7 linked regions of the Homo sapiens genome follow. The protein of the gene in region 7 interacts with the protein of the main gene of each other region in a biochemical or structural test. Each region holds a gene or a part of one and is shown on either strand. Other genes may lie near its edges.

Region 1 (3,500 bases), on a different chromosome or scaffold from region 7:
ACATATCAACAGTTATTAATCTAAGAAGAAACAGCAATCTTCTCAAAGACAGATGAAAGTTAATATGTAAATATGACTGCTAAAAGTTTTTAAATCAATGTAAATCTTTGAATAGGAAATTCACTACATGAAGAAAGAAAAAAACTTCTGTTAAGACCCACAGTACCTCAAAACTCAAGTATTATTGTGCAATAATGACATCCAAATTTTAAGGGTAGGAGGTATGAGCAAGGGAAACAAAAATGTCCAGGGAGATGGAAAAGAACAGTGAAATGAGAGGTATCTCTAGATAGAGGTAATGGAACCTCCCAAAATCATAATTATTCAAAGCAGTTTACTAAGAGGATAAACCATAAACCAAATTATCTTTGCCTAGTTCACTTCTAATTCACCTAAATCTTACCATGTATATTTCCTTCACCACCCCCCACTCCCAAACAAGGCAAATTACTCAGTGAAGACTCCATCTCAGATCATGGCTACCAAATCTGGGGATCATATTATGCTTAAAGGTACTAAATTAATGATGCATTTATAAATTACTCTGATGATTCACAGAATTTAAATTCTCATTTCTTTGGCAGCTTTCTTGACAGACAGTCTTACATGCTCAATACAAAGCAGAAAAGTGTTTATATGTCACTAGAATCAAGACGCAAGAAGCCAACACGTGCCCAGGAAAAACTGGGGAGATAATGATACATTTGTAATGAATCACAACATTTTTACAATAATGATTTCTACCTAAGCTTTTTTAAAAAGTTACTTCTTAAGATATTAGTTTCCATTTCAGTTAAAATATTGTTAAGGCAAATGCTTGCTCATTATGGGAAGAATAAAGAGATCTGTAAAGGTGAAAAATCTAGAAAAGAGCACATTAATCTGATACATCACTCAGTATAAAACTGTAATGAAAAGTATAAAATATAAGTGAACAAAAAAGGGTGAATAAAAATGTAGATTAAAGAAACATTAAAGGAGAAATAAAGAAAACACTCCATAGTTATTCCTGTAGCAAAACCTACCATAGTTATTCTCAACATCAAACAAAGCATTCATTTACTTTAGTCTGAAGTCACTTTAGGGTGCTTGGACTATTAATATTTCTGATGTCTTCCATGCTGAACACCTGAATGGCATACTGTCTATATGAAATGTTTGTTATTGCTCTGGGGAGATTTTTCCATATGTCTCTGCTTTCATGAAACTCTAATGACTTGCAATAACATTTATTAAGAAAGAATTCTTAATTACTCTCCTTTTGCAATACTAACTTTTTTGAACTATGAATGCTGACTGTTGTAGGAACCTCAATACTATTAAAATATCAGCAACAACCCCTAAATCTGTAAGCTAAAAGTTCAGGCAATGACCTTTCAAGGAAAGATAAGTAGATATCAATTTTCATTTAACAAAGCCAACAAAACATTCTGCACTGACTGAAACAGATTACTGACCTTCTCCTCTGACTTTATTAAAAAGCTAATTTCTACAAAAGAGCTGGGTATTTGAGAATACCAAAATGGCAATAAATATTAAGAAATCATAATTATGGAAGCAAGTACACTGAGGCTATTCTGTTGTCATGTTATATAACATAGCTCCAAAATTAGGCCAAAGAATAATTATACTGACATCTTTTTTTGTACTAAGAGTTGATTCCAGTTTTTGAAGAACTGCTGCCACTCAAAGCACATTAGCTCACTTTGAACTGAATCTGAAGTTTAACACTGACACACCCTATGTTTTTAATGTACTTCACTAATAAATGTAATAACTTGTAAGAAAAAAATCTGCTAGCTACAAGGAAAGCCTGTTCAATTCTCCTACATTCATTATTATTAAAATATATGCATTTAGTCCTAATCAAAGATAATCAGCATTCTTCCCCACATTTATAGTAAACATAATTTTTATATAAAATATTTGTAAGTATTGGCAGCATGCACAAGCAGCATGTGCTTTTTGTCATACATTCTCACAGTTGGTAAATTAAAATCAAGATAGATCTATGGGACTCTATATCATTAAGATTACTCAAGGTCTGAAAAACACTTAAAACCATTGTTTCTCCTTTCAGTGATTAAGCATAGTCTTTCTAAATTAGCTTGTGTAAATGCAATCATATTTTTCATTAAATGCTATTAAAATAATATCTGTATTCAAAACAATGGTACCAGTTTTGTAAGTAAAATGTATCAATTTGATTTATTTATCACTTCAGACTTACTATAACATAAAAATTAGATATACTCATTATTTTCCTTTTTTTGGAGAATCTGTATTCTGTTTAATACTTTACCTTTATCTTCTCACTTCAGATTTCCTTTGTATTTCTCATTCTTTCATTAGCAAAACAATGGTACTTTTAATGGCAAATCACCTCATTTAAAAAGTTCATGTTATATCATGATTTGTCAAATATCCTAATTTTTGAAAAACCATAATTAACTAAATGAATATTGCTGTATCAGTGTAAAAAGGAAAAGATATTTATGAACCAGTATCTTTATGACAATGGTGAAGCAAAATACTGTACCTTTGTTTAGAGATATCAAGCAGAATTTTATTTTTTATACGATTCTATTTGTAGTTCTTGATATGTTTTTGGTTAAAAACAAGGGCCTGTCATTTAAGTAGAGCAAAAGGAGGAAAGAGGATGTGATATTTCTCTCATTTAGGAATTGACAGAGCTAAAGGGGTTTCTGTTGATATGACTCTGTGTTTGCAACGAGGCAAGCTGTCAACTCCTGATCATGTCAACCAAGTATTTAGAGCTTAAAAACCAGTAACCAGAAATAAGAAACTTGAGGTTCACATAAAGTTCACTGAAAGAATATGAGTTAGAAAGGAAACAGCAGTCTCAGAGTTTACAACCTTGTAAATGCTACCCCAAATGTAAAGAAGAATGGTCTGAATATCCGGATATGGAAAACATACTAGTAAGAATCTGTGGCCAACAGCCACATGACCTGAGGAAATAATGAACCTCTCTTGGAATCATTTCCATCCAACTATAAGAGTTGATGGTTGAGCCTATAAAAAAAAATATTCTTTATAATAATACCATTTTGAAAGACATGATTTAAAAATATATCAAAATGCTCAGCTAAAATGGATCAGGAACAGTAAAAGTGTATCTTGGTGCCTGGACGAAACATTGGGTGAAAATCATAAAGTCAAGTCCAATAGTTTGCACTCAACTTTGAAGGAGGCAAACTGCAAGAACATGCTCTCTATACAGAGATCCACTGTATACAGGAAGGGTACTAAAATACATAATGGATGGAAGATGTATGAAGAATCGGCAATCGACATCATGACTTCCACATCACCATAAGAAAGAGAAGCAGGCCTGGACATGGTGGCTCACTTCCATAATCCCAGCACTTTGGGAAGCCGAGGTAGAAGGACTACTTGAGGCCAGGAGTTCCAGATCAACCTGGGCAACATGGCAAGACTCCAACACAACAAAAAATTTGTAAATGAGATGGGCATGG
Region 2 (3,500 bases), on a different chromosome or scaffold from region 7:
ATACCAACCTAGCTGATCAGTCTGGGACTTAAGGGAAGACTGAAGCAACTAAGCACAAACTGCTGAGCATATCGCAGAGGTTTTGTTATCATCTTCAATGTTTTCTTTCCTTAATAGTACTCAACACACTGAAAAACTACCCCCAAACAGCCACACACTGAATAAAAGTCATAGGCTCCATCATTCTCTAATCCTAACTTCATTTTTTCTTTGCACATAACATGACACTACCGGTGCCACTTTCTTCCTTGGAAGTCTAGAAAATGTGAAAATTGCCCACCTGAATTTCAAATCCAAATGTTTCATTATCCTGCTTCTCCACAGTAACAAGCTTTCTGTAATAAAAATGTTTAAAAAAGAAACTGCATGAAAATTAAAGTATCACATTTGGCACAGATCTATCATTAAAAATAACTGTCACAATTAAAAATAACTGACATTTATGTAAATTGTAGTATGTAAGATTCTGTGTGTGTGTCTGTGTGTGTGCGTCTGTGTGTGTGCGTAGAGAGAGAGAGAGAGAGAGAGGAAGAGAGAGGAAAAAACAGTCTGGAGAGCTATGTTCCTAAATATTTTGGGAGAGACAAAAAATAATTCAATCTCTTTACCTTTGAGACCAGGAAAAGTCACTTAAAGAACTTGATCTGGTCAAAGCAAGCTGAAAAACACAAAAGACATATAGTTATCCCAGGGTCTTCAAGATACACTGTAAAATGTTCTAAATCTCTCTCTCTCTCTCTCTCTCTCTCTCTCTCTCTCTCACACACACACACACACACACACACACACACACACACACACACACACACAACCTGTTCTTTACCACCTTCTTTGGCCCAGCTCCTGGGAAATTGTTGCATAAAGGCAGCCATTTCCATTCTCTACATTCTCTAGTGATAGCAGAGGAGAGTAGGGAGACAGGATTCTAGGCATTCCAGTTAAAAGATTGAAAGAGGTTTAGATAGTAATACAATGTGGCAAAAGAGTTAAAATAATGTGGCAAAACTCCAAAGCTTCCAAAGAGAACTTCCTCTCTGGTCTGTATTTAAAACAGCCTCTGAAAGATTAACCATAGCAATTTGTAATCACACTGAAATCCAAAGAAAAATAGCATACTTAGAATGGCATATGAAACCCAAATACTTTATAGTTTTTGGAGATGATGATGAAATGACAGTGTTTACTATAATAATTCAATACGTTACTGTTTTTAGTAGGATAAAATAATCTCTAAACAACCAACTCACACACACAATTCAGGTAAAACCAGGAACTCAAAACCTCATTTCTGCTTATGATTTATTTTTGTAATAGTTTTGGAAGACTAACGTGAAATTTCCAGCCAAGAAAGGAAAGAAACCTCAGAATAGTATCAATGGTATAAATAATATCACCTTCATTCCTCTGCACTTTTGGAAAAGATCATATAAACATAAGCTTTCAGGACACATTCTACCACTGTAAACAGAAGCAGCATCAACAAAAGGTGACAACTTATTTTTTAGGAAAATTGCAGCAGGTTTTTGTGTTTTTTTGGTCGGTTTGTTTCTTTGTTCAGGAAATGTTTATTAGCCCTATTCTCAAATGTTGCTTCAAGGGCCCAAAACATAAGCTACTAGCTAACCCATGGTTTTTAATTGTCAACCTGAAATGGTTGTCATATATAAATGAACACATAAAATATCAAGAGATCAATGCATAGTCAGTCCAGACAAAGCAAAATAAAATAAGTAAAGGATGAAAACTAGAAGGGGGAAAATATGTAGGAGATATTAATGCTTATGTGACAAGTTACACAAATGAAATGCTTATTAAGACATTCATTAGGAGTGAAGCCTACATCACTGTAGGAATTTTGAATTACCAGGTACCAAATGCCAGCATTTTCACAAATTTCCTGGAATGGACCAGTGTTAAGAATTCAGCCACCAGTCCATAAACTTAACGTAATGGAGAGGTGGTCTCTTCTTACCAATTTGCTGTAAATTAATTATATTTTCCTCTTTTGTTAGTTCTGGGCTTCAACTCACTTATATCGCAATGGAGACTGAAATAAATTGCTCAGACCCAAAAAGATTCTCTAGTCTTGCTAAAAAGTATCTCTTTTCAATTTATAAGCACTAACTGTGGAATGCCTACAAGGATTGGTATGGTTTGTTGTAACCTGATTTTGTACCTCGTATGTACCGTTACCAAGGATAGGGACTATTCATCTATGTTAGTGGGCTTCCTTGCAGAAGAGAGCCACAAACTTGATATTTCCAAGCATTCTCAGTCTCTCCCTTATATTGTACTCATATTTTCTTAATCTATTTTTATTATCTTCAGCTGCTTGTTTTCCGCCCTTAAGCCAAATTACGTAATGATAACTAGGGCTTTTTTATTCTTTTTATAAAAGTTTCTTATACCTCTATAAATAAGGGCTTATATTTTTAAGGTATTACTCTTGCTATCAGTATTCATCATATTATTCATATATCCATATAGAGAGAGCTATATATATATGTATACATATATGTATATATTTATATGAAATGCATACTGGATCAAATACTTCACATCTGTACATAATCATCTGTGTGATTTGGACCTCTTGGGGAATGTTATTTGTTTTACTTTCTGCCCCAATGCCCAACACAGGGCCTGGAATAGAATGGAAACTTAAAAATGGAGAAATAGATAAAAATAAATAAACTACTAAACGAAAATGGAAGCAACTGAGATGGTTGAAGAGCCACATTAAATATTCACGTTCAGGAGAAATATGTAAAGATAGTCTTCAACATTGTCCTTTATTAAATTCAATATCATAGGAAAAACTCAAGGATAATCACTAAAATACATAAAGTAAAATTTAAAAATCTTAAATATGTAGCAAGATTTAAAAATGAAAGAAAACAGACAACTGTATATCCATATGCAGAAGAAAGAAACTAGACCATACCTCTCACTCTATACAGAAATCAACTGAAAATAAGTAAATGGATCAAAACCTTCATGTAAAACCTGAGACAATAAAACTACTGGAATAAAACATAGGGGAAAGGCTTTAGCATATTGGATTGGGAAAAAATTTTATGAATAAGACCTTCAAAAAACAGGCAACAAAAGCAAAAATAAACTAATGGGGTTATATTAAACTAAAAAGATTCTGCACAGCAAACAATTAACAGAGTGAAAAGACTACCTGTGGAATGGAAGGAAATATTTGCAAACTACTCATTTATATATCCAGAATATATAATGAACTAAAATACCTCAACAGAAAAAAAAAAATTTAAAAATGGGCAAATGATCTGAACAGACGTTCCTCAAAGGAAGCTATACAAGACTGGGCATGGTGGCTCACACCTGTAATCCCAGCACTTTGGGAGGCCAAGGAGGGTGGATCAACTGAGCTCAGGAGTTCAAGATCAGCCTGGCCAACATGGTAAAACCCCGTCTCTACAAAAATACAAAAATTAGCCAGGCATGATGGCAGGTGCCTGTAATCCCAGATA
Region 3 (3,130 bases), on a different chromosome or scaffold from region 7:
ATGCACAGGAAGTGCAGATCACAGTCCTCTCTGGAGGAAAAGACTAATGCCAGTTCTTCCCAAGTGAGTCCCTAGATTCAGGGCAACCTGGTCACAGTTCAGAGGTTTGCTTTTCCAGAGCCTGAGGCATGCAGTCTCAACTTCTGACAACTGGAAATGTAGAGGAATAGCTTTGACAGGTTTGTAAATGACCAACAAGGAGGAGAGATTGGCTATTAAACTCCAACACAGTAGTAATTATACATTAACAGGGAAATAGATCAGATGACCAGAATCCAGTAACAAAGATTCGTACAAAATTAGGAAAAGTTCCTACCAATCATTAAGAAGAAGTTAAATAAGCCTTGGAAAAAAATCATGAAGGGTTTGGGGTAACTTACACAAGAACTGCTCTTTTGAGAGTGAGGACCACTCTGTTCCCTTAGTGCTAGGCACCCAGCAAACACACCATAAATGCTCAAAAACTGAATGTTCATCACTGGTAATCAGAGAAATGCAAATTAAAACAAACGCATATGACATTTTACTTAACAGACTGGCAAAAATGAAAAAAGAAACATAATATCCTGAGCTGGCAGGAGCACAAGGAAATGGGTCTCGTGCTGATGATGAATGTGAATTGATAACAGTTTTTTTGTGATTTGCGATAGCACAAAATTGAAAACAGCACAAATGTACGTTACTCTGGGCTCGCTAAATAGGCACTAAATAAAACGAGTCAGTTTCTTCTCCCGAGCAAGTAAACTAGAGGGTAGATCCACGCGACCCGGAGTCTAGGACACATCCTCGGGAGTGAACAGCCACAATTCACAGACGATGTGTGCAGCCGGGGCATGAAAGGCCCAAGGCAAACACACCACGAGGTAAACGCCGGGACTCTGAGGAGAGGGGTGGAAGCCGGGACTTCGAGGAGGGGTGGAATTGACTTAGAGACAGGAGGGAGCCTCTTGGAGGGCAAAGCTGCCCTGGGCAAGTGTTCTTTTCTTTCTAAACCTTCCTTCTGGTCTCTGTCTGGAAATTTAAGCGCGCCCCCTGGTGGGGGAGAGAGGAAGGGGAAGAAAAGGGGGTCTCGGAGGAGAATAAAGTGCTCGTGGGTGGAAGAAACCTGGAACAGAAAATGCCAGAAAAACCTGGAACAGAAGTGCAGACGGCCCGCGGCGGCCCCGGTGATCTCCACACTCAATCACCCTCTCCAGGGGAGCGATCGCTCCTGAGGCTGCCAGCACCCCACCACCACCCCCAACCCGCTAGTGCCGATGACGGCCACAGAGGCCTTTCTCGCCCCCAGCTCACCTTTGCACACACAGTTCCCCCGTGCAGAGTTTGTGCCTCCCTCATCTCTTAGTTCTCAGCTAAGACTTTCCCTGACCCCACCCAGGTCATACCTCCTGTCGTCGCGCCGCACGCAGCATCCCAGACCTCACCTTCGTATTACTAGAGCTGGCCCGTTGTGATTCAGGTCTGCCTTCCACCCAGGCTGTGGCCCCCTTCAGGGCAGCATGGTACCCGTCCTGCTCACTACTGCACCCAGAGCCTAGGACATGCCTGGCACCTAAGCAGATACTACTGTACTCGGGAGCCATGCATGGCCTGCGCAGGAGGGTGGCAGGCCAGGTGACAGGTTCAAGGTGGAGCAGAGGAGCTTTATTAGAGGGACAGGGTGAAACATATTTACACCGGCCGAGCAGGGACCTTAAGAAGCAGGCGTGGGAGCAGGGTCCCAGCTCAGACGAGTTCCACCTTGGCATTGGGGTACACCGCCACCACGTCGTAGCCCTCGGGCGGCTTCACGCGCGCCTTGGCGTGGCTCTCACAGTAGAGCCGCTCGTCCAGAAAGAAGTAACCACGCTGCTTGAGGTTCAGGCCGCAGTCACTGCACATGAAGCACTCGGGATGGTAGAGCTTGTCCCGTGCCTTGACGATGGTGCCCCTGATGGGGGGAACGAGACAGGACAGCGTCGAGTGACTGATGGGTTCACGACTGCGCCCGCATCCAGGGCCCTGGAAGGCTAGGGTCCGGGAGGGGCAGCGGGGGCGGTTACTCACACGATGCCGTGGCCGCAGCGCGTGCACTCGGGCAGCCCCTGCAGGCCGCTCAGCGGAGCGCCCAGCTTGCTGGCCGTGGGCTTGAGGTTCCGGGGGCCGCCAGGCCCGGGCCAATCCCCTGAAACCCGGAGCGTAGGTGGCATGAACGGGGTGAGGAGGTCAGAACTCCATTTCTGCGGGGTGTTTGGTTGGGCGCCAGACGGGCCATCGGCACCCGAGACTGGGGAACGGGTTTGGCGGGCGTGGGGTGAGGGGCAGCGACAGGGGGTGGAGAGGGAATCGGGAAGCCAGGGCGTAGCAAGGTTGTAGCAAGGGCGTGGGACCGGGCCGCAGAGACCGAAGAGGGCAGGTGACTGCGAGGCGGGACGTGGGGTCGCTAGGGGGCAACCTGGGCACTGCAGGGAGTGGGAAGGCAGATGGGGACAGGTGGCAGGCGTCTTACCGCCCTCGCCGGCCTCTAGCATGCCCTGCAAGTAGCGGAAGGAGCCTGACTGCTTGGGCTCCGCGGCCACGGGCTCGGCTGGCTCCCGCAGCATCCTGTACACCTCGGAGCCCAGGTCGACTCTGCAGTCCCGGCTCCGCGGGAGGCCTCTGGCTGGGTCAGCGCTGGGAGGGAGAAAGAAATAGAGGAGGAAGGGATGCAGTTCCAGCCTTCACCCTGTGGACTTGGGGTCTGGTAAGGCTTATGAGTCAGAATGCAACCAGCTAAGACCCAAGGATCAAGTGTCAGGGGTCAGAGTGGGACTGGGTGAGATTTGAGGGATCAAGGGTTAAGATGGGTTCTGGGCATGGCACCGAAGGCATCTCTGTGCTACCTGGGGGGTGGAGACACATGCAGGGTGCTCATCTGGGCTGGCAGGGTGGCCTCGCTGCTGCCATTGTGAGGGACTGGAAAGCGAGGGGGTTGTCCATATGGAGATCCCAGGCTTGGTCTGCCATCTTCTGGCCCAGTCCCGGTGCCTGAGGGCCGCCTGCTGGTTGTTGGGCTGCCGTCCTATTAGAGAGAGGCCTAAGGCACTGGGAGACCCTCTGGCCTCCAGCCATTCCTTGTTCACCCCACCCCCACCCTGCTGTGCTGTGCCAG
Region 4 (2,334 bases), on a different chromosome or scaffold from region 7:
GTGTTGCTACAATGACGTCTGTAAACAGAAGTTGGACTGGGTGACCTCCAGGATCCCCATACCCCAATTCCAAGATTCTAAGTATAACAAACCTAACCTGCCTGTCCCTTGCTTCATAGAGTATAAGTTCCCAGAGTGGACTTATGGCCCCTGACAGGTATAATGAAAATACTGCAGAGACCACTTCTGTCTCCAATTGCCTGGAATTTTTAGAGTGTAGAACTACAGGTCTTTTAGGTCAGGCGTCTGGCGATTGCTCCAAATGACTGGTTAATAGCAAGTAATACTACATAGTTTTCAAACTAATAATCCTTAAAAACAGTAGGTTAAAACCATCTTATCTTTATGAAACAAGAAGTTAATATACTTGCACTTTGCTCTCTTTTAGGCTATTCTCATGGATCACAACTGCCCTATTAAAACAAAAATGTACACTCAGAATAATATCCAGTCATATCCGATAGGTGAAGATGAAGAATCTGAAAGTGACTGAGATGAGATCCTCAAAAATCATCAAAGTGTTTAATTGTATAAAACAGTGTTTCCAGTGACACAACTCATCCAGAACTGTCTTAGTCATACCATCCATCCCTGGTGAAAGAGTAAAACCAAAGGTTATTATTTCCTTTCCATGGTTATGGTCGATTGCCAACAGCCTTATAAAGAAAAAGAAGCTTTTCTAGGGGTTTGTATAAATAGTGTTGAAACTTTATTTTATGTATTTAATTTTATTAAATATCATACAATATATTTTGATGAAATAGGTATTGTGTAAATCTATAAATATTTGAATCCAAACCAAATATAATTTTTTAACTTACATTAACAAACATTTGGGCAAAAATCATATTGGTAATGAGTGTTTAAAATTAAAGCACACATTATCTCTGAGACTCTTCCAACAAAGAGAAACTAGAATGAAGTCTGAAAAACAGAATCAAGTAAGACAGCATGTTATATAGTGACACTGAATGTTATTTAACTTGTAGTTACTATCAATATATTTATGCGTTAAACAGCTAGTTCTCTCAAGTGTAGAGGACAAGAACTTGTGTCAGTTATCTTTTGAATCCATAAATCTTAGCTGGCATTAGTTTTCTATGTAATCACCTACCTAGAGAGAGTTGTAAATTATATGTTAACATGTTATCTGGTTGGCAGCAAACACTAAAGCCAATAAAGGAAAAACAGTAAATGTTCCGAAAGCAGAGAAAAGCAACCAAACATATTGTTATGAACTAAAAGCTTTCCCTTTAAGATGCATACTTGTCTTACTGGATGAAGAAAATTGAGGGTACATGTACCTTATACTGTCAAGGTTGTTTAAACATGATAAGGTTAATCGCCATCTACTTCAAGTTTTAGAAAAGGAAACAAGAAGCTGAAAACAGCTGCTCTGACTTTAATATCTGACTATATCTTTGATCTGTTTGCAGGTCATCCAAGTGTTTTCTAGGAATATATTTATTTTAGGTTGTCTGAAACTACTATTTTTTAGACTCCTGAAAGTTGTTCACATCAATGTGAAGACAAATTTTAAATGAAAATGAAGAATGAAATTATGTCTTGAATCATATATTAAGAAGTAAAAATAATAGTGATCAGGCAGAAAAGAAAAATGGAACATCTAAAAATGTATGTGCTAACTATATCATCCAGTGTGCAGTGTTGTGTATTTTTCTAAGCATGACAACATTGATGTGCCTTTTCAGTGTAACAGCAAATACTGTTAGTGAACATTGTCAATTTATGTCATTTTGTTAAGAGATATGACTGGAGTGTGCAGTGTGGAATGTCTCTAATACTACTTGTGAATCCTGCAGTTCTATAATCATAAACAAAAATTACTTAGTTTCGTTAAGCTAAGATTGTGTTTGTGTTAACTTCGACATCAAGGAGCAAAGAACTTTAGAACAGACTCCTCAATCTTGTGACTTTCTTATTCTCTAGGAAAGTAACACTTCGTTTCATGAAGCTTTTCTGTGGGGCTTCGATTATTTCAAGTCTGGTTTCTAAGTGCAGTGTGTTTGAAGCAAACGAACTTCCAACTCACTTATTTGGCATTGGGCAACTTGGCCAAGTCTGCCACTTTGGAAGATGGCTCTGGAGGAAACTCTCATATGGCTAAAAAGGCAGGCTAGTTTCTTACTTCTACAGGGGTAGAGCCTTAAAAAAGAACGTGCTACAAATTGGTTCTCTTTGAGGGTTTCTGGTTCTCCCTGCCCCCAATACCATATACTTTATTGCAATTTTATTTTTGCCTTTACGGCTCTGTGTCTTTCTGCAAGAAGGCCTGGCAAAGGTATGCCTGCTGTTGGTCCCTCGGGATAAGAT
Region 5 (3,500 bases), on a different chromosome or scaffold from region 7:
AGATTTGTTTCCCTAGAATTACACACAGACACTAGCACATTCTTTCAAGGAAGAAAATGCACTGGAAATCCTTAATTGTGGCTTTCAATTCACTACTCACCATCTGTCTGTTTCTTAATTTTCAAGGTGACAGTCTCTCCTGCCATCTGTAACAAATGGATGGCTTCACTCAGAGGCTTCCCTTTCAAGCTGCTGCTATTGATGGCTAGGATTCGGTCTCCTATGTGGATTGCGCCAGTTCTGAAAAGCCAAATAGTAATAGGAGAGGTAGAAATAATCCCTGTATGGTACTGAATATAAATTCCCTGACATACCTTATACATTCATCATAATAAAGACTTGGTAAGGATCTCCAGAAGTCCCTTCTTGCTTTCTCCTGGGCAATGTTATAAGATAACTGCATCTGTTGTGGATTACTTTTTAGTTTCCAATAAAATTTTAAAAATTGTTTTAATTAGTTATTAAAATGAACTGTGTTTTTTAATTCCAAGAAAGCTGAGTCATTGGTTAAGCACCCTAAAAATCCCAAGAAAATGAACAATGTTGAATGACAAATGTAGTGGATAGCATGGAGCATCCTTTCTTTCTACAGATTTTTTTTTTTTTTTTTTTTTTTTTTTGAGACAGAGCCTCACTGTGTCACCCAGGCTGGAGTCCAGTGGCACGATCTTGGCTCACTGCAACCTCCGCATCCCGGGTTCAAGCAATTCTCCAGCCTCAGCCTCCCAAGTAGCTGGGATTACAGGCAAGCACCACCATCCCCAGCTAATTTTTCTATTTTTAGTAGAGATGAGGTTTCCCCATTGGCCAGGCTGGTCTTGAACTGACCTCGTGATCCATCTACCTCGGCCTCCCAAAGTTCTGGGATTACAGGTGTGAGCCACCGCACCTGGCCTGTATGAGCTAATTTCTAAGGTACACTGCAGCTCCAACATTTTGCAATGCTGTGTCTCTATTTTGCTAGCCACTGTTTTCAACTGTTAGCAGGAACAATGCATTTGTGTATTCCTGAGCTAGGTTACTGGAGGGCAGATTTGCTTATAGGGTTTGTTATATGTCCAACAACACATCTCAGAAAGAAATGCAGTTTAGCGGAGGGTGGGGAGTGGGTGTGTGTGTACATCATTGCCAAAGGAAAAAATGGACATTCCAGCTTTTAAGACATTATTAAAATGGGTTATACACTTTGTTTCCCATAATCCTTGAAGATGATGTCTGTATCATCCTTTTCTGAAAACACAGCAGCTAAGTGTGGCACCTGTCAGGTAACAGAGGCTCAGCAAGTGTTTGCTGAATGAAATTGGACAAGCTGTTCAACCTCCCTGAACTTTAGTTTCCTCCTCTCAAAATGGACACAATACAAATCCGCCTTCAGTCAATTGTGGTCAGCTTATACATTTCAGAGAGTAGTATCAATGCTAAGCCCAAGACGTCTTTTACTGCCTGTAAGATGCCCCTCAGAGTCAAGTCGGAACTCTGCCTGAGAGTTCTCAGGCTCTAAGATCAATCCTTTGTGCAGATTTTTAAAAGCCAACAGATAACCACAGAGAGAGGAGCATGTTTTTATGTGGTTGTGAGGAAGGAAGCCCGTCTCAGACACAGGTAATTATAACAGTTACTTCAAATTTTACCTTTCAGCTAATCCCCCTTTAGTGAGGCTTGAAATGATTATAGGATCAAACGGCTCTTCAGTTCCTGAAATTGTGATGCCAAGGGGCCCCCCGTAGCGTTTAAGCTCCACGGTGTAAATAATTGCTCCGGAACTTTCTTGCTCATCTGTAATAAATGCCAAGGAATCATAATTGATTTCTTTGGAAAAAGCAAAAGAGTAAGATGCATAGATTCATACATAAAAGAATTCAAAACATCCTCGTCAAAGTATCATGTCACAGAAAATAATTATTTTGGGAAGTAGCATTTCCTTAGTAGGATCTTACATTCAAATACAGGGATATAATCATTGTCAGTGCCAGGGGAGAGGAACACTGCCTAATGACTTATGTTTTAAATGTGTGAGATCCGCCCAGCTGGGGCTGCAGGACCTTTCAACTGTGTCCATGTCTAGGACAGTGCTTACCTAGCATTTAGTAAGTATGCAGTAAATATCTGTGAAATAAACATATGGCTGAGGAGGCATTATAATATGAGAGGAGAGAGTCACTCAGTAACAAAGAAGACAGACATTGGGTCACGCTGTTTCCGTTTTAAGCTTTACATGCATGCTAACTTTTGATATAGAAAAGTGGATTTTGCGAAGGGTTGGAACAAATAACATATATATGGTTAAGTGGAACTTAGATAAGTAAACTTGAAGACAACAGCAAGAAATCTAGAATCTCTTAGATATCATTCCACTGACTGTCTTCTAATGTGAGTCCTATCAGTGAATTACGGATATTAAAGTGGAGGTTTGAATGATCATCTCTCCTCTTTCAATGGAGTAACAGCTGTTGTAAGCTATGTTTCAACAGCATAGACCAGCCTGCCACACTGTCATAAACTAATTTTGGCTATTCAACATTATTATAGTTGAAGACACTTGTGAATGTGCTCTGCCTAAAGCACTGGCCAGAAAGATATCATGGGCCGCCTTCAACGTGATGGGTATTGTGATGGTGTCAGAGTTGCAAATAAGAAGTCTCAGAATTCAAAGGTTTTATTTGCTTCTGACATGCTTAAAGTTCTTGGGCACTTCTTGTTTTATTCCTTGGGCCTGGGAGCTGTGAATGGTTAAGGAACTGTTTCATTTCTGCAACTAAGGATAAAATGAAATGGTTCAGTGGCTACTTTAGCAAAATAGTCAGCTTTTACAGTCAGACTACATCCTAGTGAAGCATTAACATGGCCACATTTTTGCAGTGAGCAGCTGTTCGTTTACGATATGAAATCCTAAAATAAGGAGGAAAACCAAAGCTTGAGTTAACAATTCAATTATTTGTGTTTGCAGTGAAGAATTATGATGAATATAAAATGAAAGGTCTATCAAGTCATTTGGGAAGCAATGTGTCCTCTCTCGCCAGCACTTACTTCACTTCTGGCCATAGATTGGGAGTTTTGAATGCAGCCATTACCTCCACTTTCTGAGTGCTCTACTCAACGTATTTACTCCACACATTCAGAACTAAAGACCATCCACCACACACTGCAATGCTTAAGTCAACATTTTAGGGCACAAAATCTTCAACATTGGGCTCAAATTTACATTAGCAGCTGAGAAGCTCCCATATCAAGCCTAAAACAGCTCTGTTTGCTGGTTCACAAGTTTCTTCTGGGCTGATGCTGAAGTTGTGGCCAATAGGCTGGTGATGATCTGCTAAGGGCTCCAGAGAGAAACATCAAGATAGAGGGTAACCAAATAATCAGCAGAGGTCAAAAGTCTAAATTTTCCTACAGTACGATATTTTGTCACCTTTCAGAGCTGGCTTTGACCTAAATGAACAGAGTACTATTGGATAGATTACATGTACTTTGCAGCCCTCATCATCAACAATATCCTGGAT
Region 6 (3,500 bases), on a different chromosome or scaffold from region 7:
GCACTCACATGCTCAGATCTGTCAGGGTATCAGCAGCGAAGATGAAGGGTTTGTACACATCATGGGTGAGCTGAAACACACTGCCAGGTAGTGGAGGAGCATCACTCAGCCTGGGCGTGCCCACCCACAGCCCAGAGAGGCTGGATTCTGGGCGCCCCAGCCACTTGCCACACCTCCCACTGCTACCCCATCACCCTTCCTCTCCCTTTCTGTCTCCATCCCCCAGCCCATCACACCCCAAGACTTAACTATTTCTTCTTCTGATCATGTCCACTTTCCAGACTATAGTTGGAGACATTGATGAGGCCCTCAGCCTTCTCATCCTGGGGGGATCACAGCATGAGGGTCAGGTTGGAACCCCAATACCCTCAAGGCCCAGTCAGCTCCTAGTTACCCCTCGGGCTCCTGAGAGTTGTGGAGAGGAGAAGGCATCTCCTGGGCTCTCTAACAAGTCTCTCTGTTTCTGGAGCTCAGGGCTGGAATCTGGGGTCAGGGTAGGAGATGTGGCCAAAGGATGCCTCTAAGCCAGGAAAGGGGAGCCAAAGATATCAGAGAAACAGCCAAAAAAAAAAAAAAGAGGAGCCTGAAGGCCGGGCATGGTGGCTCATGCCTGTAATCCCAGCACTTTGGGAGGCCAAGGCAGGAGGACCATTTGAGCCTAGGAGTTTGAGACCAGACTGGGAAAAAAGCCCATTTCTACAAAAAATTAAAAACTTAGGTCGGGTGTGGTGGCTCACACCTGTAATCCCAGCACTTTGGGAGGCTGAGGCGGGCAGATCATGAGGTCAGGAGTTCGAGACCAGCCTGGCCAACATGGTGAAACCCCATCTCTACTAAAAATACAAAAAATTAGCCAGGCATGGTGGCAGGTGCCTGTAATCCCAGCTACTCGGGAGGCTGAAGTAGGAGAATTGCTCGAACCTGGGAGGAAAAGGTTGCCATGAGCTGCGATTGCGCCACTGCACTCCAGCCTGGGCAACAGAGCGAGACTGCGTCTCAAACAAAACAAAACAAACAAAAAACTTAGCTAGGCATGGTGGCATGTGCCTGTAGTCCCAGCTACTCAGGAGGCTGAGGCAGGAGGATCGCTTGAACCTGGGAGGCTGAGGCTGTAGTGAGCTGAGATCATGCCACTGCCCTCCAGCCTGGGTGACAAAGCAAGACTCTGTCTCAAAAACAAAAACCAAAAAACCAAACAAGAAGAGCTTGCTCATGCATTTGTTCCTTCAGTAGACACAAACCAAACTGCTTCACACCCCTGAGCTTTCTGAATGCTGCTTTCTCTTCCTGGTTTTCTTTCCCCTTCCCATGCAACTAACTGCCAGGTATTGCATTGTCAGGGGGCATCTGGACTCCTCAGGATGGACTGGACACCTCTGCTGTGCTCCCACATATCCCTTGGGCTTTCCCTTTATCTTAGCACACGGTCCCTACATTGTCCTTGAGTGTGTATTCATCCCTCTCCCCTACTAGCCTCTAAGTTCTGGAGAAGCAAAAATCATCCAATTCTTCTCTGTGTCCATAGTGCCCAGCCTAGAGCTGGGTTCACAGTAGGCACCTGAATCCTGAATGAATAAATGAGTAAATGAATGGCCCATCATTCGGATGGACAGAATATCAGAAGGATAAGGAGAAGTGGGCAGAATAGACGTGATTTTTCGGCCAGATGTGGTGGCTCACGCCTATAATCCCAGCATTCTGGCGGGCTGAAGCAGGCAGAACGCTTGAGCCCAGGAGTTTGAGACAAGGCTGGGCAACATAGCAAGACTCCATCTTGCTATGTTGCCCAGATTTTTCAGGGCCGGGTGTGGTGGCTCACGCCTGTAATCCCAGCACTTTGGGAGGCCGAGGCAGGTGGATCACGAGGTCAGGAGATCGAGACCATCCTGGCTAACACGGTGAAACCCTGTCTCTACTAAAAACACAAAAAATATGCTGGGCGTTGTGGCGGGCGCCTGTAGTTCCAGCTGCTCGGGAGGCTGAGGCAGGAGAATGGCGTGAACCCGGAAGGTAGAGCTTGCAGTGAGCCGAGATGATGCCACTGCACTCCGGCCTGGGCAACAGAGTGAGACTTTGTCTCCAAAAAAAAAAAAAAAAAGATTTTTCTCTATACCTCCTATGATACCTTTTCCAAACTGCTTTTATACATATATTAACTCATTTCTCTCTGAATAAAGTCCCCATTTTACAGATGGGGACATCAAAGCCTTGGACCAGGAATAAGAGTGGATGATAGAATAGAGATGAGAATCGAGGCCTGGAAGTGACTCACTTGCCTACCTGTTTTTGTGTATGGGGTCTTACCTGGGGCTGGCGGTACCAGTAGAGCGTGTGTCCCTTGAGCACAAACCAGCGGCGGCGCCAGCGCGGGCCCATGAAGCCGCCCGGTGCCTTTCGCAACAGGAGCCAGCCGTCACAGTCCGGCCGGCCCAGCTCACGGCATGACACCCGCCGGCGGCTCAGCCGGGTCGCCAGGCCTGTAGCAGCACAGCACAAGCTGGGCAGTGAGGGGCTGGCAAGGTGCCCCCGCTAAACCTACTCCCTGCCTTCCACAAGCATCCCCAAGTGAGATCTCTGAACCCACACTCTGCTCAGAATGCTACATGTGTCATCTCTGAGGTGGGATGACCCTTCTTATTTTAGAGATGAGCAAACTGAAGACTAGAGGCTAACCTGTTTGCTCAGTCACAGCAAACAGGTTAGCCTCTAGTCTGGTGAGAGGCCCAGACTGGGAGCACAGCTCTGTCTGACCCTAGAAACAGAGCTGTTTCCAGGAGAGGCTGTGTGGGAAGGATGGGGGTGGTCTTGCCCAGCATGTAAAGATTTTTAACAGCTCCTCAAACAGGGGAACCCCCACCTAGTCCAGCGCACCTCATACCTTTTGATTTCTTCCGACCAACAGGACTCTGAAAGGACAGCAGAAGGGTGAGAGAAGGATCTAGGTCCAGACCCACCCACCCCCTTGCTAAGCCCCTGAGCTTACCTTGTCAGGGGATTCAGGGAGCCCTGGAGTCCCTGCTACCCCTGCTGGGAGTATGGCTGGGGGTTCCGGGGGGATGGGCAGGGGCTCAGGGCCAAGGGAGGCAGAGTCTGTCAGGGAGGGAGGAGAGAGAGGGAAAGTCTATGAGCCCAGTCCCAGGCTTGGGGTCAGAACTGGGTGCCCAGATGCCGTGTCCGGGGCATCCATGGAGCTTTGAGACTACCTGTCCAGGCAGGGCTGGGTCCGGGACTGGGGTTTGAAGACAGGTCAAAGGCAAAGACGTCTTCAGATGGGGCCCTGGGGAGGGCAAGGGGGATGAGATGAGCCCACGGTCTCCCCACCAAGACACACCTGGACAGAGCCTGTTACCTGGGAGACAGTGGGGCCAGAGACAGTGATGGGCTCCTCTGGTGCGGGGAGTCCAGGACCTGAGGGGGCGTCTGGGGAACAACCAGGAACAAAGCAATGGAGACAGGGGTCTGAAAGCAGGTTGGGGGGCAACAGGGGTAGGGGAGCAGCA
Region 7 (3,500 bases):
AGTTTCACTGAACAGCACTGCTCTAGAAAGTCTTGCTCCGGCTCAGAAATGACACAAGTCATTTCTTCTGGTAGAACCTTTCAGACGACAGTTTGGAAATCTGCATTTAAAATAAGAAAAATATTTTAAAATGTTTATGCCCTTGCAGATTTAATGTGTTAGTATCTTTTATTAGGATTATTAACTGTTTTTGTTACTGCTTTAGTTTTCAAAGTTGCATAGGTTTTAACCCTGTTTTTTTTTTCTATAAACCTAGTTATATCTTGAAACTTTTGCGCAATGAAGTTTTGCAGGAAATAATATATCAGGTTATTATAAAAAAAATGCCTGTACTGCCTAATTACTCAATTACTTCTTTGGACTGTGTTCTTAAGAATGAAACTATAGGGTCAAAGGGCATAAACATTTTTAAAGGTTTTTCTTATTTTAAATACAGCTTTCCAAACTGTCACCTGAAAGGTTCTACCACAAGAAATGACTTGTGTCATTTCTGAGCTTGAGCATTTAACTATCACTGCAAGACTTTCTAGAGCAGTATTGTTCAATGAAACTTTCTATGATGATTAAATCTCCTAAATCTGCATTGTCCAATGTGGTAACCATTAACCACATGTAGCTTCTGAGCACTTGAATTGTGGCTAGGGTGGCTGAGAAAATAATTTCAATGTTTTAATATTAATGTAAATAGCAACATGCAGCTCATAACTACTGTATTGGACAGTACCACTCCAATGCTTTTTCACCCTCCCCATAATGGTGGCCATGTTCCATATAGTGGCTGTTCCATCAGTATAAGTCCTAAAGGGAGAATGACACAGAACAAGGTGCTAATGGCCATGCAGCTTGAGTAATAAGCCTTGGTTGTTGTAAGTCACTGAAGTTTTTGAGGTCTGTGTTACCACAGCAAAACCTATTCTAACCTCAGTAAAACAGCAGTTACAAGTTCTACTTAGTGTATGAGAGGACATGTTAACCTACATTGTTGCTCATACTAGCAATCTTTTTATTTACTAGCAATCTTGTTACTCCTTCAATAATATATTTACAAGTCAGGCACTATTCTAGAGTTGAGGATATTTCAGTGGACAAGATATACAAGGTTCCCTTCTTAGAGCTTACAAGCCTAATGGAGGAATGGAGAAACGTTTAACAGATAATTTACACAGTGTGATGAGTGTTGATAGCAGATTATCTCATTGTTATTTAGCTTTTAAAACATTAGTAAGAACATTACATATATATTTTCCTAATTGCCATTTTTTTCATTTCTCAACAGTCTCTTCATAATAGAGCTTTTATCTGTTTCTCATTGATTACTAATAACTCTTAATGCATTAGAAATATTAAATATCTTATACATTTATCTCAGTTTCTAATGTCTTAAGCTCCCTGCCCCTCTCCAACCCACTGTGATATAGAATTCTTTTTTTTTAAATGGAGGTACCCATGGCTTTTTAATGATGGTTTCTAGCTTTGGTGTCTTCTTTAAAGTCCTCTCCACAGCCAACATTAAAGAACTATTTATCTACAATTTTTTCTACTGTTACTTTTTCCCCCAATCTTCAATATATGGGGATTCAAGTGTAAGGATAGAAAACAGCTGTGTTTTTTTCTAAAATGTCCAGATAACATCATTTACTGACTAAACTACCTCTTTTCTCACTAATACAAAAATGTCACCTTTATCACACAACAAATTCCTCTATTTGGGAACTATTTCCTGACTCTCATGTTCTATTTTTCTGCCTATTTTGGCATGAGTATCATCGCTTTAATTACTGTAGCTTTATAAAACTTTTTATCTGCTCAGGAAGATTCCTCCTCCTTTCATCGAGTTTTCCCAGCCATGTTTGATTGAACATGTATCCTCAAAGAGGAACTTCAGATTAATTCTGACATGTTCTAGAATAGATCACATTAAGATTATGTAGAATTTATAGGCTATCAAATTCATTCATTTCTGCTTTCTGTTCTTAGGGCGTCATTTTTTTCAATTTCAGTTGAATATTCAACTTAACTTCATAAAAGTTAAATAATGAAAATGTTTCCTTTGAGTAGTTTTGAACATATCAAATAGGGTTTGACTTGTTATATTCTTATATTTTCTAAATATTTTATAAATGGAATTTGATTTCTCTTTTTAGCCAAAAATTATTCGGAAGTGTTTTAAATTCCTAAAAAGTTTGGAGTTTTTGTTTCCTATTTTATTACAAATTTCTAGATTTACAGCATTGATGTTAAGGAATATCACCTATTAGACTATTCATACTTTTTATAATTCGAAGTTTTTTTGTGTGATCTAAGAATATGGTCAATTTTAATAAATATTATGGTGCAGAGGTACTTGCCTTACTATTTACTCAGATCTTTAACATCCTTACATTTGTCTGTTTGCTCTATTAAGCATTGAGAAAAATACTTTAAAAACCCTCATTTTTATTATGTTTGACAATTTATCCTTTTACTTTCTAAAGTTCCCATTTTGTAAGTTATTTAGCATAAGGTTTCACAACAGTTCTATTTTTATTAATGATTACAGACATCATTTATTTATAAAGTCTGTCCATTCATTCTGACTCTTGCCTTCAACTCAACTTGTAAACTTTTACTTCAGCTAGAAATTCAGGCATTTATATGTTCTAAACAGCATTTATTAACCATTTGTTTAACTTCTGTTGATATAAAGAGACAAATTTAAGTATTATTTACTAAATAATATGTTGCAAGCAGAGGCTTTCTCTTGAGGCTGGCTCTTGTTTCTCACCAAGAACATATCTTAAATTCCCTGAGAAGCTATGCAATAGAGAAGAAAGGGCAAAGAGCCAAAGACCAGCCTTCATTAGCACCCCTCTTTTCTGCTTCATTCCAGTTTCTTCTACCAGTTTCCTAAATCTTGTCACTTTACTCATGCTAAATAAACCGCTTTACACAACCTTACTAAATTTTACTTTCTATTCCCAGATGCTTTACTGCTTAAAGATCCCAATCCAGTTAGAAATATTTCCCAAAGATAACTCCAGTTAAAATATATACTAATACTACTACTAATAATAATACAGTAATTTATACTGTACATGTGGCAAGGGAGAAGACTGCAGGCTGACTGGGAGAGAGAGAAAAAAAGGGGACTTTTTACCATATACTTTTTAAAAATAGTTTTTGATTTTTGATCCATGTGGACTTACGTATTTAAAAATGTAAACACTGTATTAAAAACAAAATTTTAAAACTTAAGAGTACAACTTACCAGTCATATTTTCATCCAGTGGTAGAGAGACTCCTACATCACAGATTTTAATTGTTTCAAAATCGCCTTTAATTACAACATTTGAAGACTTTATGTCTCCATGAAGCAGTTTCTTTTCTTGGTGCAGATACTAAAATAGTAAAAAATTTAACACATATGTGCAGAAACACAAACTAATAAAAAAATGTGATAACCTCCAAATATAACAACTTGAACTCCCTTCCTAAACTCTAGGTTTACATTTGTCCAGCGT

What was found.
Region 1: the proteins of PBK (region 7) and PARD3 interact in a test that uses a peptide from one of them, tested with the Homo sapiens proteins (one large-scale study listed by IntAct).
Region 2: the proteins of PBK (region 7) and CYTIP interact in a test that uses a peptide from one of them, tested with the Homo sapiens proteins (one large-scale study listed by IntAct).
Region 3: the proteins of PBK (region 7) and PDLIM4 interact in a test that uses a peptide from one of them, tested with the Homo sapiens proteins (one large-scale study listed by IntAct).
Region 4: the proteins of PBK (region 7) and PDZD8 interact in a test that uses a peptide from one of them, tested with the Homo sapiens proteins (one large-scale study listed by IntAct).
Region 5: the proteins of PBK (region 7) and GRIP1 interact in a test that uses a peptide from one of them, tested with the Homo sapiens proteins (one large-scale study listed by IntAct).
Region 6: the proteins of PBK (region 7) and CNKSR1 interact in a test that uses a peptide from one of them, tested with the Homo sapiens proteins (one large-scale study listed by IntAct).

What each region holds. Positions count from the first base shown.
Region 1 is NC_000010.11:34,378,297-34,381,796, forward strand, and holds part of PARD3 (partitioning defective 3 homolog), read right to left. Parts: intron 1-3,500. UniProt on the Homo sapiens protein: Adapter protein involved in asymmetrical cell division and cell polarization processes. Seems to play a central role in the formation of epithelial tight junctions. Targets the phosphatase PTEN to cell junctions.
Region 2 is NC_000002.12:157,434,090-157,437,589, forward strand, and holds part of CYTIP (cytohesin-interacting protein), read right to left. Parts: intron 659-3,500; coding exon 609-658; intron 336-608; coding exon 281-335; intron 1-280. UniProt on the Homo sapiens protein: By its binding to cytohesin-1 (CYTH1), it modifies activation of ARFs by CYTH1 and its precise function may be to sequester CYTH1 in the cytoplasm.
Region 3 is NC_000005.10:132,270,825-132,273,954, reverse strand, and holds the end of PDLIM4 (PDZ and LIM domain protein 4), read right to left. Parts: intron 3,041-3,130; coding exon 2,862-3,040; intron 2,653-2,861; coding exon 2,489-2,652; coding exon of another isoform or gene 2,165-2,488; coding exon 2,047-2,164; intron 1,931-2,046; coding exon 1,726-1,930; 3' UTR 501-1,725; downstream 1-500.
Region 4 is NC_000010.11:117,276,774-117,279,107, forward strand, and holds the end of PDZD8 (PDZ domain-containing protein 8), read right to left. Parts: 3' UTR 501-2,334; downstream 1-500. Other genes in the region: SLC18A2 (synaptic vesicular amine transporter), read left to right, coding at 389-493. UniProt on the Homo sapiens protein: Molecular tethering protein that connects endoplasmic reticulum and mitochondria membranes. PDZD8-dependent endoplasmic reticulum-mitochondria membrane tethering is essential for endoplasmic reticulum-mitochondria Ca(2+) transfer.
Region 5 is NC_000012.12:66,392,577-66,396,076, forward strand, and holds part of GRIP1 (glutamate receptor-interacting protein 1), read right to left. Parts: intron 1,777-3,500; coding exon 1,632-1,776; intron 241-1,631; coding exon 101-240; intron 1-100. UniProt on the Homo sapiens protein: May play a role as a localized scaffold for the assembly of a multiprotein signaling complex and as mediator of the trafficking of its binding partners at specific subcellular location in neurons.
Region 6 is NC_000001.11:26,183,991-26,187,490, reverse strand, and holds part of CNKSR1 (connector enhancer of kinase suppressor of ras 1), read right to left. Parts: intron 3,421-3,500; coding exon 3,350-3,420; intron 3,278-3,349; coding exon 3,204-3,277; intron 3,091-3,203; coding exon 2,984-3,090; intron 2,907-2,983; coding exon 2,879-2,906; intron 2,478-2,878; coding exon 2,305-2,477; intron 324-2,304; coding exon 250-323; intron 81-249; coding exon 9-80; intron 1-8. UniProt on the Homo sapiens protein: May function as an adapter protein or regulator of Ras signaling pathways.
Region 7 is NC_000008.11:27,817,318-27,820,817, forward strand, and holds part of PBK (lymphokine-activated killer T-cell-originated protein kinase), read right to left. Parts: intron 3,378-3,500; coding exon 3,248-3,377; intron 2,344-3,247; exon of another isoform or gene 1-2,343. UniProt on the Homo sapiens protein: Phosphorylates MAP kinase p38. Seems to be active only in mitosis. May also play a role in the activation of lymphoid cells.